Regions from separate parts of the Homo sapiens genome. Here region 2 is linked to region 1. Evidence: fine-mapped expression QTL. A gene starts in region 1. The other region holds a variant in brackets. All regions are shown on one strand. Distances are between the middles of the regions.

What was found. PIP is the estimated chance that this variant, and not a neighbour inherited with it, causes the effect.
Region 2: its variant is the best candidate, but not a certain one, in a credible set for the expression of HMOX1 in whole blood (TOPMed, PIP 0.55).

What each region holds. Positions count from the first base shown.
Region 1 is chr22:35,379,583-35,382,488 of GRCh38, reverse strand. It overlaps HMOX1 (heme oxygenase 1), which reads right to left and starts at 1,393. Exons shown (of 5, transcript NM_002133.3): 1 at 1,293-1,393. The coding sequence starts at 1,315. RefSeq lists silencers at 1,123-1,292, 1,593-1,672.
Region 2 is chr22:35,405,802-35,408,707 of GRCh38, reverse strand. It overlaps MCM5 (minichromosome maintenance complex component 5), which reads right to left. Exons shown (of 17, transcript NM_006739.4): 5 at 1,983-2,155; 6 at 145-300. Among named protein-coding and RNA genes, the nearest start is that of MCM5, 7.1 kb to the right of the region's middle. The variant GT/T (reference allele first, on the strand shown) is at 1,598.

The DNA of each region.
Region 1 (2,906 bases):
TCCCAACTACTTGGGAGGCTGAGGCAGGAGAATCGCTTGAACCCAGGAGGCAGAGGTTGCAGTGAGCCGAGATCGCGCCACTGCACTCCAGCCTGGGCAACAGAGCAACACTCCATCTCAAAAAAAGAAAAGCAAAAAAGCAAAAAAACAAAAAAACAAAAAACAAAAAACAAATTCAGGCTGGGCATGGTGGCTCTCGCAGCTTTGTAAACACTCTTCAGTCATTAAAACACTAAATAATACAGTCCCCCAAACCAAGGGGGAAATCCTGGTACAGGTAGTTCGCAGTGGAGAGGAGGAGGAGGTACAGCATAACCCAGGAAGAAGCAGCAGCCCCATGAACCGGCATCTCCAAGTTTGTAATTGCTTTGATTGGCTTTTAGACCCAATATTTAATTCAGTTATTTTGTTAAAGTTCCAGATGCAAATCTCATGACCCCCTATCATGTTATGCTCATCATGAAGGCGTCAGGGTTAAAAAGCCTGAGAAAGTCTGCTTTAGTCAAAGAAAAAGTCTTTCTGGGAGTATTTCTGTCATGGGTCCGTATCCCTGCCTCCCCACAGAATTGTCATTTTTCCCTTTTCTCCTGCCCTGCTTCCCTGTTCTACAACACAGCTGGTCAAAGTCTCAGGAGAAATGGCACATGTCTGTAAGTCCCAGCTACTCTGGAGGCTGAGGTGGGAGGATGCTTAAGCCCAGGAGTTAAAAAAAAAAATACTAACAAATTATTGAAAGAAGGGAATGAGTGAGACCTGGAGGTGGGCAGACCAAGGTTCAAGGCCCAGTTCTGACACCAGCTAACTGAGCACTCTTGGGCATGTCGCCTCCCTGAACTGGGCTATCTGTGAGACATGGAACACCGCAGCCAGGGTGATGTCTGGCTCAGGTCCTCCGTAGCTAGTGAGGGACAGATGCCACCAAGAGAACCAAGCATGCTCCCCCAGGCTGGCAGAGCCCCAGAGATCTAGATTCAGCAGAGAGCAACTCCAAACACACCTCGAAAGTAGGATTAAAAAAAAAATTGGCTACCTCAAAGACTGGATACTCTAGGGACACTCCCATCTTGGTCACCAACCGCATACCAGGGTGCCAGGCATGTAAATTACCGTTCCTCCCTCCAACTACCCTACGGGCACAGGCAGGATCAGAACCCCGCACCTCCTGACTCCAGAGCCCAAGTTTCTGGCTCCTGGGCTCTGTCGCTGTGTGGCAGTGTCCCGGGGTGGGGCTAGGACGCAAGCAGGGTTGGGAGAGAAAGGCGCCCGTCCCGCGTCCCGCGCCCCGCGCTTGCCTGTCGGGTTGCGGACGCTCCATCCGGCCGGTGCTGGGCTCGTTCGTGCTGGCTCCGCGGGCGGCGGCTGCGCTGAGGACGCTCGAGAGGAGGCAGGCGTTGACTGCCGGAGCCGCGGCCGGTCACATTTATGCTCGGCGGGTCACGTGGGCCAGGCGGAACAGCTGATGCCCACTTTCTGGCCGGGCGTTGCAACACCCGCAGGGGCCCGCGCCCAGCCCGCCCCGGGCCAGTGTGGGGTGGAGAGGAGCAGTCATATGACCCTTGGGAAACAAAGTCTGGCCATAGGACTTTTAGAGAAAACACACACACACACACACACACACACACATACACACACACACACACACACACACACACACAAAACCTTTAAGGAAATCTGAGAAGCTGCAGGCTCTGGGTGTGATTTTGCTCCTTCCAGAGCCCCCCCTTCTGCTCCCTGTCCCCTTGGGACTTGATGCACCCCAGGCGTCCCAGAAGGTTCCAGAAAGCTGGGAGGCAGCGCTGCTCAGAGCAATAGCCTGGTGGGCAACATCAGGAACTTAGCAACCCCAGGCTCTGCTGTCTCCAGCTCCCTAAAATGTCACCTGCTGGAATCCTCTGCTGACTGCTTGCCTCCTCACACCCTCTTTAAATGTACATTTAGGATCTGTTTTTTGAGTTCCTGTCAAAAAACAGAGACTCTAGTATTTTCATGGTTCATCCCTACAACTGACCTGTGAGGGTAGATCGCTTCTATTTTACAGATGGGGAAACCGAGGCTCAGAGGGGTGCAGTGGTGTCACACATAAAGCAGGATGCCAGTGTCCAAACCCAGGGAGGAGACTAAGTCCCCGCCTGCCTCCTCCACACTCTGGCAGCACCTGGTATCCGCCTGGACTGGGACACCTGTCATACAAACTGCTTCCCTGCTGGAATGCGTGGGACACTCTTCCAGGCACATTCAGGTCTGACTTATACTCAGTGCCTGCTCAGGGCCCAGAGCAGAGCTGGCCCTTGCTGATCGCCTATTGAATCAATTCTGCATGAGGTGGACTCCTTAGAACTCGGGGGAAATAGGGTCACTGGGTGAACCCAGAGGACAAAACGAATGGACCAGATGATTCATACAGTCCTTTCCCAATACTGTGATTCTCATTCTAAGATTTTTTTTTTAAGATGGCTTTCAGGCCTGGCATGGTAGCTCACACCTGTAGTCCCAGTACTTTGGGAGGTTGAGGTGGGAAGAGCGCTTTGAGCCCAGTCGAGGTGGGAAGATTGCTTTGAGTTCGAGACTGGCCTGGGCAACATAGGGAGACCCTGTCTCTACAAAATATAAAATAAATTAGCTGGGCATGGTGGCACATGCCTGTGGTCCCAGCTACTTGGGAGGCTGAGGCTGGAGGTTCACTTGAGCCTGGGATGTAGAGGCTGGAGTGAGCTGTGACCACGCTACTGTATTCTAACCTGGGCAACAGAACAAGACGCTGTCCCTCAAAAAAAAAAAAAAACAAAAAAAAAAAAAAAAAACTTCCTGGAATTCAGCCTAGGGCCACTACAGCCCAGAGGCACTTCTGAGATTGTATTGGAAAGGATCATCCTCCCAAGGGTGAGCTAAGGGGCCTTGAAAAAAAT
Region 2 (2,906 bases), 26 kb before region 1:
GGCACAGAGCAGGTGCTCTGCAACTGGCCACCTTCTCCACCCTACTCACCCTGCTCCAGATGACCCACTCCCAACACTCGGGTTAGGGCCACAGCTGGGACATCCACCGTCGTAGATGCCCACCTCCCAGCCCGTCTGCCTCACCTGTCGCAGTAGAGCTGCATGTGTCTGGGCATCTCCCCGTGGGGGACTGCATCAGGCAGCTCCTGCAGCTTCAGGGTCTGGAAGTCCACGCATTTGCATTTGTCGGGCATGATGAAGTACGGGTCCAATGGGCATTTGGGGCGCCCAGCCTGATCTCTGTACAAGGTAAGGGAAAAGAGTCACCAAAGCTACCTGGAGAATCCAAAGGCAGGGCTCATTCATCCCAGGAGCCAGCAAGGAGACGTTGCCAGCGGCAATTTATGGGGGTCTCCAGAATAAGCTGGAGATAAGCCAGGCAGGCAACGCTGCCTGGAGGTAAGAAAGGAAGGCAACACTGACGGACCTAGCACTGGATTAAGAGTCAAGGGAACTGCTTGAGGCTGGGTCCTTCCATTAACTTGCTGAGAGGAGGCAGACAGGTCACACTCGGTCTTCTTGCAGGATCATGGTGTCCTCATGGGTGAAGAGCTAGTTCATCAATTCTCTTACTAAAGCCCCACTCAAATCCCAAGATCTTTTCCAGTGGGATTCTAGGCAGTTCTAGACCATTCTGAGGGTCTAAGCCTCTACGTATCCCTAGGTAATTATGTCATTATTCAATAGATATTATAGCAACATAAAGAAGTAAACATCATAGCAAAACCTACTATGTGTCTGACACTATTCCAGGTGCAGGGGGCACAGCACTGAACAAAAAGGTCCCTGCTCTTGTGGAGCCTAAGTTCCTATCAAGGGAGGCTGAAAAGACATACAAGCAAACAATCATATTAAAGAGTGACAGCTACATGCTGTGAAGAAAAGTAAAAAAGTAGGCAGGTGTGGGAGAGACGAGGTACGTGCACACCAAACTGAAGATGAAGGGTTGGGCAAGATGCCCCTGGTAAGGGGACATGTGAAGAGAAGCCTGAAGAAGTGAGGACACAGACTATGGTAGCTTGAGGAACAGCACTCCCAGTAGAGGAAACAGCAAGGTCAAAGGCAGTGAGACTGGGGGTAGTCAGTGTATTCCAGAAACAGGAAGGAGGCAGTGAGGCCGGGCCTGGAGAGAGGAGGGGCAGCGAGGCCTGGGGAAGCCAGGAGCAGATCGTGGTGGGCTGTGCAGGACTTGACTAAGAAGTAAATGACTGGACCACCTGAGTGTCAAGGGACACCTGGCTGCTGGGTGGAAAACAGACTGAGGGGGTGGAGGGTGGACGCGGGGGATCAGGGAGGAGGTAGCGTGCCTCTCCAAGTGAGAGATGTCAACAGCATGGAATGAGGCAGCTGTGCCACAGGTGGATGGGAAGCTGAGGAGGCACCAGCGAAGGAGCCAAGAAAGAGCAGCCAGTGAAGAGGGTGGGGTTCCTTCAGACTGGGGGCAGCAAACATTTTCTAGAAAGGGCCGGAGGATGTGCATTCCAGGTTCTGCCAGCCAAGAGGCCACATACCCTGCCTTTGTAGTGCGAAACCAGCT[GT/T]GGGCAATACTTAAATGAACGAACGTGTTCCTGGGCCATAGGGTCAGCAGGCTAGATCTGGCCTAGTGAGCAAACCATAGTTTGCTTCAGAAGATTCCAAGTAGACTCATTACCCTGGACTGCTTTTCCCTCCCAACCCTGGGTTCCCTACAACGCTGTCTGGGTATCCTGGTGAGACAGAAGTCACCAATGTAGAGGGACCCTGTTCATGGTGTCTCAGAGCCACAGGGCATCAGATCTGTGCCAATCCTAAGGGCACACCCCTGCCCAGCCCATCCCAGTGGATCTCTAGAAGCAGCTGCAGGCAGTGCTTGCTACTTGTTCTCATCCTTTCTGATCTTCACTCAGGTCACCTCCCACAGTCCCTCTGGGCCACAGACTCACGTGTTGCACTTCCTGGGCAGGGCATAGCCCTCGAGGCCAGGGCGCATGGCAATGTTGGTGAGGGTGTTGCGGCAGCTGCGGCACTGGATAGAGATGCGGGTGGCCTTGGCACGGACCGCAGAGGCCGCGATGATGATGCCAGGGATCTTCACCAGGTGTGACATCATGTCCGACTGTAATAGAGCCATCGGGAAGCTTGTTGGTTAAGGGGAGCCAGGACGCATCTGAGATATGCCAGTAAATATCCTGGGCAGGAGCCTGGAGGAGGTGGGCACAGAGCTGCAGGGAGGGCCACAGCTCTTCTGTTCCGCTCAAAAAATGCTTCCAGAGCATCCACCCAGTGCCAGGCTATCTGGACCCTGGGGTTCAGAGGAGCCTCAGGCACAGCTCCTGCTTTTAAAGACCTCGCAGCACAATTGGGGGGGGAGGTGGCAGGGCAAGAGATACACTAAGCACATTTCACTACAAAGTGGCAGGTGCCAGGAGAGAGACCTGACCCCAGCTCTGATGGCGACATCCTTGGACCTGTAGAGTACAACACAGAACAAACCTGGGAGGCAGGGGCCCACATTCTAGTTCAAGTTCTGTCAAAACCTGCTGTGTGGTCTTCTGTCTGGGTCACTTCTCTTTGAGCCTCAGTTTCCCCATCTTAATGACTATTCCCACACCGGACAATAAGGCAGTAATATTTTTTCTTTTTTCTTTTTTTTTTTTTGAGACAGAGTCTTGCTGTGTCGCCAAGGCTGGAGTGCAATGGCAGGATCTCGGCTTACTGCAACCTCCGCCTCCCGGGTTCAAGCGATTCTCCTGCCTCAGCCTCCCAAGTAGCTGGGATTACAGGTAACTGCCACCATGTCCAGCTAACTTTTTGTATTTTTAGTAGAGACGGGGTTTCACTATGTTGGCCAGGCTGGTCTCGAACTC